2 linked regions of the Homo sapiens genome follow. The protein of the gene in region 1 interacts with the protein of each later gene in a biochemical or structural test. Each region holds a gene or a part of one and is shown on either strand. Other genes may lie near its edges. The genes, in order: POU2F1 and PKNOX1.

Region 1 (3,822 bases):
ATTATTGGGTATATACCCAAAAGAATATAAATTTTTCTGCCATAAAGACACATACCCATGCGTATGTTAATTGCAGCACTATTCACAATAGCAAAGACATGGAATCAACCTAAATATCCATCAACACTAGACTGGATTAAAAAAAATGTGGTGCATATACACAACGGAATACTATACAGCCATAAAACTTTCAGTACATATGTACACAAAGAAGGGAACAACAGCCACCAGGGCCTACTTGAGGGTAGAGGGTGGGAGGAGGATGAGAATCGAAAAAACTACCTATCAGGTATTATGCCTATTACCTGGGTGATGAAATTATCTGTACATCAAATCCCTATGACATGTAGTTTATCTACATAACAAACCTGAGTGTAACCCTGAACCTAATAGTTTAAAAATAAGAAAAAAAGTAATTGGGAGGTTGGGGTTAGGGCTCAGGAAACTTTTCTAATTCCTCAAGTGATTTTTTAATTTTTTTATTTTTTAGACGGAGTCTCACTCTGTCACCCAGGCTGGAGTGCAGTGGTTCAATCTTGGCTCACTGCAAGCTCTGCCTTCCCAGTTCACACCATTCTCCTGCCTCAGCCTCCTGAGTAGCTGGGACTACAGGCGCCTGCCACCACGCCTGGCTATTTTTTTTGTATTTTTAGTAGAGATGGGGTTTCACTGTGTTAGCTAGGATGGTCTCGATCTCCTGACCTCGTGATCTGCCTGCCTCGGCCTCACAAAGTGCTGGGATTACAGGCGTCAGCCACCACGCCTGGCCATTAATGACTCTTAAATAAATCAAATCTTAGGAAGCACTAAGCTATAGGATTTAAGGTCAAACTCCTGGAAACTTAATCTAAGGTTCTTTAATGATCTGGTCTCTGCTAATCTTTCTGGGTTCAAATTTCACTATTACCTGCATATGCAAACTTATTCTGCAGTTGTAAGGCACTACTTATAGTTCTCAAACACAGCTTATTGATTTTTCTTCCATGTTTCTAAGGTTTGCAAATGCTGTTCATTTTCCAAGACTGACATTCTCTCTTTTGTAAGCCTATGAATGTATTTTCCCAAATTCACTGTGAAGACTTATCTGAGCACAAAGTTACAGGGGTCTCTTTGCTTGGTTCCCATAGCATTGTGTGCATATCAAATCTAACATAATTTAGGTCTGTTTCCCTGCCACTAAATTGTGAGCCCTCTGCAAGTAAATACTGAATTACTTATCTCTGAATCTTGAATATATGCTAGAATAATTATTTCATGACAAAAGATTTTGGAATGAATGATCAAGAAGAAAAAAGGCAAAAAAACCCACTCAGAAATAATAAAGAATCATTAGTGATGCACTAATGTTCCTTGGGTTGAAGCCTTGATACTCTGACATTCTTCACCCTGATTACATTAACTGACCTTACAGACGAGTGGTTGTTTGATATATTAATTATATAACATTTACCACTCAAATGACTCAAAGATGTTTTTTATAACTCACGAAATTTGTAGTTTCTATTATAGCAGTCTTCCCTCCTTAAATTAAAAAAACAATGGTTAGAAGCACATACTTTCAACACTCAGTCTATATTCTTTGAATACACTTCCATGAAAAACAATCAAAACACTAGCAGCAACTTATCCAATTTATGTTTGGCATGTTGAATAATTTCACTTAGACTTTTGGCCAAACTCTTGGTTCTTCCTTAGTGATTAAGCAGATGAATGGCAGTTCAGGGCAACCTTCAATAATGTGGTATTTATGACAAAAAACAAAACAAAACTTTTTTTAAACGAAAGTTTATAATCAAATAAAATTTAATAAAAACATTGGTCTAATAGTTTCAGGGCCAAAATGATAGTAGTTCATGCATGTGTAACATTCAGCGAACAGCCTTGGTATACCACTAATAAGCTCTAAGGAGGAGCTCACCCTGCTGGCCCTGGGGCGTCTGTGAGATGATAAACTGCGCTGGCTGCAAATTGGTGGTTGGATGCACCAACACAAACTGTTGCAGGTTGAGATTCTGCTGTTGAAGCTGTTGCAGTTGTTGAAGATCCTGAAAAATTGGAATTAAAACATGGATTGGAGATTCTGAAATAAAAGTTCGCTTAATTATAAGGCTTCCAGCTGATGACTTCTGTCACATCCAAATAAAGAAGAGTAAATACTTCGCATGCTTTCATATTCCAAACAGGGTATGCTCTGTGTGTGCTTGACAAAGCACGTGAAGCAACCTGGAGCCTCTGCAACTGACTATTTTTGTGGACTGACATATATTGTTATGATAAGCCTAATTTTCAATGTTTCTTTAAAATTCCCTCAGAACAAATATACTTCTGTTTTTTATCATGTAAAGACCAATATGGGTTTTAAAAATCAAGTGAGAAAACAGTTTTTAAATATTTGATTGATCTTTCTCTTAAATAAAAATTGATCGTGTTATGTCTGAATTTCCATCAATAAAGGGCCTATAATGACTTATGACATTTGACAACAGCTTATCTAACTCAACTGAAAAATCAGTATTCAATTTTTTTGCCCTTTTCCACATGTTCTAAAGTATTCAATTTTTTAAAACCAAAAATAGCTATCCATATAAAAATTTAATCCCTAACAACAATAGCACCTTACATTGGCCTACTGTTTTATAATTTTCAAAGTGTTTTCATGAACGTTATCTTATTTAGACTAATGTTAATATAGGGTCTCACAGCTTAGGCACTAAAAACATTTATTTGGTGATGAGAAAGTGGCCAAAATCAAAACATTATCTTGATAAAGATTGTATAAAGACTAGTCTGATATTTATTCTCTACTCTTACAGTTAATTAGTTCTTTTTAAATGGTTAGTCAAACTCTTGCTACAAGTTAAGTCCATTTCTGAGTCTTTTCTGAGACGGATAAAGACAGCTGTCTAACAATTAGACTCATAATAACTCTTCATATATTTTACTGATATATCTACTTATACCTTTTTCCTCTTCTTGAGATTAAAGATTTTATTTATTTTCCTCCTTGGTACTATTGTGTATGCTTCTTAATTTTTTTTTTTTTTAGTGGCGCGATCTCGGCTCACTGCAAGCTCCACCTCCTGGGTTCACGCTATTCTCCTGCCTCAACCTCCCGCGTAGCTGGGATTACAGGCACCTGCCACCACACCTGGCTAATTTTTTGTATTTTTAGTAGAGATGGGGTTTCACCGTGTTAGCCAGTATGGTCTCGAACTCCTGACCTAGTGATCCGCCCGCCTCGGCCTCCCAAAGTGCTGGGATTACAGGCGTGAGCCACCGCGCCTGGCGCTTCTTAAATAAATTTTTATTATCTCTAGATACTTTGCCCTAAAATGTGAAAATTGAAACCAAACAACATTCTAATGCAATAATGTTAATCACTCCATAGCAGAGATGACTCACTGTCTCACACATGGGTGGCAACATTCACCGCAGAGCACATGAAAAAAAATCCATGTCTGCTGTAATTAGCTAATTAAAATAAATACAGTAATCCCCTGCTTCAAAAATATGCCAGCTAATTATTCAAGAATTGTCACTTAATATAAAGTCAGTTATTCAAATAATCAGCTATATGTTTACAATATCAACTACAATAAGCAAACAAACATTATTTCTAATTCAGTGGTAAGGAAGGGTACCGCTTACCTCACTGATCTAGAGCTCCTCAGGCAGTTAAGGCCCCACACTAACAATCAAAAAGTTAATCTAACATTAAATAAAACCTGCCACTTTATTCCTCACTTGCTGCCCCAGCTATTGGAGTTCCTCACTCACCTGTGCGATCTGTATGGGCTGAGACAGGGGGATCTGCGTCATGGG
Region 2 (3,822 bases), on another chromosome or scaffold:
CAGCACTTTGGGAGGCCAAGGCAGACAGATCACCTAAGGTCGGGAGTTCGAGACCAGCCTGAACAACATGGAGAGACCCTGTCTCTACTGAAAATACAAAATTAGCCAGGCGGGGTGGCACATGCCTGTAATCCCAGCTACTTGGGAGGCTGAGGCAGGAGAATTGCTTGAACCCAGGAGGTGGAGGTTGTGGTGAGCCAAGATCATGCCATCGCACTCCAGCCTGAGCAACAAGAGCAAAACTCTGTCTCAAAAAAAAAGAAAAAGAAAAAAACTGGACTCACAAAAGTGTATGAGACCTTAAATTTTTAAAACGAGAAATGTGTGGATTATATAAATGTTTTAAAAATCACTAAAATGCCAACTAAAAGCATAACACAATATAGCTTAAAAAATATGTAAAAACGTATGAACATAGCCAGGCACAGGGGCCCATGTCTTTAAGTCCCAGCTCCTTGGGAGGCTGAGGCAGGAGTATTACTGGATTACTTGAGCCCAGGAGTTGGAGACCAGCCTGGACAACATCATGAGACCCTGTCTCTTTAAAACACACACACACACACACACACACACGCACACACACGCACACACGTATGCATGTAAGAAACCCAATTCAAAAAGGGGCAAAGGACTTGAAGAGATATTTCTCCAAAGACATGTAAATGGCCGATGAACATGTGAAAAGATGCTCCACATCACTAATTATTAGGGAAATACAAATCAAAATGACAGTAAGATGCCACCTCAAATCCATTAGGATGGCTGCTATTAAAAAAAGCAACAACACATAAGAAAATAAGTGTTGGGTAAGATACGGAGAAACTGGAACCTCTGTACTGTTGGTAGGAATGTAAACTGATACTCTCTCCTTATTGAGTCCTTGGAAAAATAAAAAATAAATTAAATTAAAAGGAATATAAAACAGTACAGTTGCTGCGAAAAATCGGATGGAGGTTCCCTAAAAAATTAAAAACAGAATTCCAGTATGATCCAGCAATCCCACTTCTAGATCTATATCCAAAAAAATTGAAAGTAGGATCTCGGAGAAGTATTTACACACTCAGGTTCACAGTTTTATTATTCAAAATAGTCAAAAGGTAGAAGGAACTCAAGTGTCTGTTGAGGGATGGATAAACAAAATTCAGTATATCCACACAATGGAGTATTCAGCCTTAAAAAGGAAGGAAATTCTGACACACACTACAACATAGATGAACCTTAAGGACATTATGGTAAATGAGCTAAGCTGGTCACAAAAAGACAAATACTACCTAATTCCACTGGTATGAAGTCCCTATAGTAGCGAAATTCAGAGACAGGAAGTAGAATGGTGGTTGCCAGGGGCTTCAGGGAGGGGAGATGGGGAGGCAGTGTTTAATGGGTATAGAGTTTCAGTTTTACAAGATGAAGGGTTCTGGAGACAGATGGTGGTGATGGCTGTACAAAAGTATGAATGAACTTACCACCACTGAACTGCACACTGAAAATGGTTAAGATGGTAAATTTTGTTACGTGTATTTTACCATAACAAAAAATTGGAAAAAAAAGGCCAGCCACAGTGGTTCATGCCTGTAATCCTGGAACTTTGAAAGGCAACAGTGGGCAGCTCATCTGAGGTCAGGAGTTCGAGACCAGCCTGGCCAACATGGTAAAACTCCATCTCTACTAAAAATACAAAAATTAGCCAGGCGTGGTGGTGGGCACCTGTAATCCCAGCTACTCAGTAGGCTGAGGCAGGAGAATTGCCTGAACCCGGGAGGCAGAGGTTGCAGGGAGCCAAGATTGCACCACTGCACTCCAGCCTGGGCAACAGAGCAAGCCCCTGTTTCGTGGGGGAAAAAAAAGTATGCTCAAATACGTAACTAAATTTAGAAGAACGTAAAGTTTAGCAATTTAATGTTTATTAAACTTTTTTTTTTTTTTTTGAGATGGAGTTTCGCTCTTGTTGCCCAGGCTGGAGTGCAATGGCGCGATCTCAGCTCACCATAACCTCCACCTCCTGGGTTCAAGTGATTCTCCTGCCTCAGCCTCCCAAGTAGCTGGGATTACAGGCATGCACCACCACACCCGGCTAATTTTTTGTATTTTTAGTAGAGACAGGGTTTCTCCATGTTGTTCAGGCTGGACTCGAATTCCCGACCTCAGGTGATCCACCCACCTTGGCCTCCCAAAGTGCTGGGATTACAGGCGTGAACCACTGCACCCGGCCTTATGCTCCTTTTTCTTGTCAAGTTAAATTCCTAACATTTTTAATGCAAAAAAATGTACAAACCTTCATAAAATGTCTGAGAGAACATGTAACAAAACACATGCGCTCACTCAGGCATTATGTTCTGGAAACTGTGATCATAGTACCTACCAATCCACAGCCCCTTTGAGTGACCCAACCCCACTGGCAGGCCCTGCTCAAAGGGGGCCTTCCTTGTGCAGGTGTCAGAAGCTCATTCCTCCCCAAGCACCACTCCCTGGGCCAGGTAGCCCTGCAACACCCAAGGCCAGCCCCCAGCCCGAAGGTCAGCGCCTGGTAGGTGGTGTGAGGGGAAAGAGCACAGGCACTCTCTCTGAGGTGGGTGCTGGAAAAGGGAGAGTACAGGGCAGGTAAGGCTGGGTGAGCCCCCACTGTGAGGGGAGCGTACAGATGGAACAGACAGTGGAGGGCAACCACCTAATTGAAGCGGAAGGCCAAGAGCCCTGGTGCAGAACTGGATCCTGCCAGAGCACAAACCATGGTTCCATCTGCCCAGAGGCCCAGCAACAATACAGTGGTCCCAAGAATCCCATAGACTCCTGTTTTCTTTATCCCTGCATGATCCTGAACCACCTATCTCACCACCCACCCAACTTGAAGTCAGCCTGCTCCCTGCCACCCTGAGAACCCGACTAAAACAGCCAATCATTCCAGCGTCAATCGCAGACGGCAAACAGTACAATTAGCTGGGTGTGATGACACGTGCCTGTAATCCCAGCTACTTTGGGGGCTGTGGCGGGAAGATTACTTGAGCCCAGAAGCTCCCGGCTGCAGTGGGCCGAGATCGTGCCACTGCACTCCAGCCTGGGTGAAAAAGTGAGACCCTATCTCAAAATAAAATAAAATTAAAATTAAATAAAATAAATAATAAAATAAAATAAGCTGCTCTGTCCCCTTCTCAAGTCCCTGAGGCATGGCCTCAGAATCAGAGCTTTAAACAGGAGTTTTATACCACATGCCAGACAACACGTTGACTGAATTACCACACTGCCTTCTATGTGAATCTTCCAGAAACAGTAACTAAACCGGCAGGGGCTAATAATCCAAAACAAGGAGCTACCATCTGCCAAGGGCGGGAACAGGCCAGGCTCCAGACTTTGCACACTGTCACGAGCAGGGCACCGCCAGCACCAGGCCTGCTGGCTCTTTCCACCAAGGACCATGCCTCTCAGCCCTTGAGTGCTTCTCCTAACAGTTTCCAGACTGACCTTCTTCTATGTGATATGTCCACTCTACATGTCCTCCTGAACAGTGTACACAAGACAGAACCATGAGGTATCCACTCAGTGCTGCACACGGATGCAAGATGGTACTTCCCAGGGCCTGCAGCCACTTCCTTCACCCTCACCTCCAAGGACACACACTGTTAGGCTTTGGGTTCCCCTATCTGTGCCGTTTTTATTTCCTTGTCTCTTTTGTCATCAATATAATCATTTGAGGAAGTAAAGAAAGGACACCATATATTCCTACAAATGGATAGGCTGAGAGTAAATCAACTTGGTATTTGTGAACATGAATGATAAAAGGCAAAAACTTCTAGCTGAAATGTAGCACTCCTTCAATTACAAAGGCAG

The links.
Region 2: the proteins of POU2F1 (region 1) and PKNOX1 form a complex in vitro, tested with the Homo sapiens proteins (one study listed by BioGRID).

What each region holds. Positions count from the first base shown.
Region 1 is NC_000001.11:167,374,252-167,378,073, reverse strand, and holds part of POU2F1 (POU domain, class 2, transcription factor 1), read right to left. Parts: coding exon 3,778-3,822; intron 2,046-3,777; coding exon 1,919-2,045; intron 1-1,918. UniProt on the Homo sapiens protein: Transcription factor that binds to the octamer motif (5'-ATTTGCAT-3') and activates the promoters of the genes for some small nuclear RNAs (snRNA) and of genes such as those for histone H2B and immunoglobulins.
Region 2 is NC_000021.9:42,980,835-42,984,656, reverse strand, and holds part of PKNOX1 (homeobox protein PKNOX1), read right to left. Parts: intron 1-3,822. UniProt on the Homo sapiens protein: Activates transcription in the presence of PBX1A and HOXA1.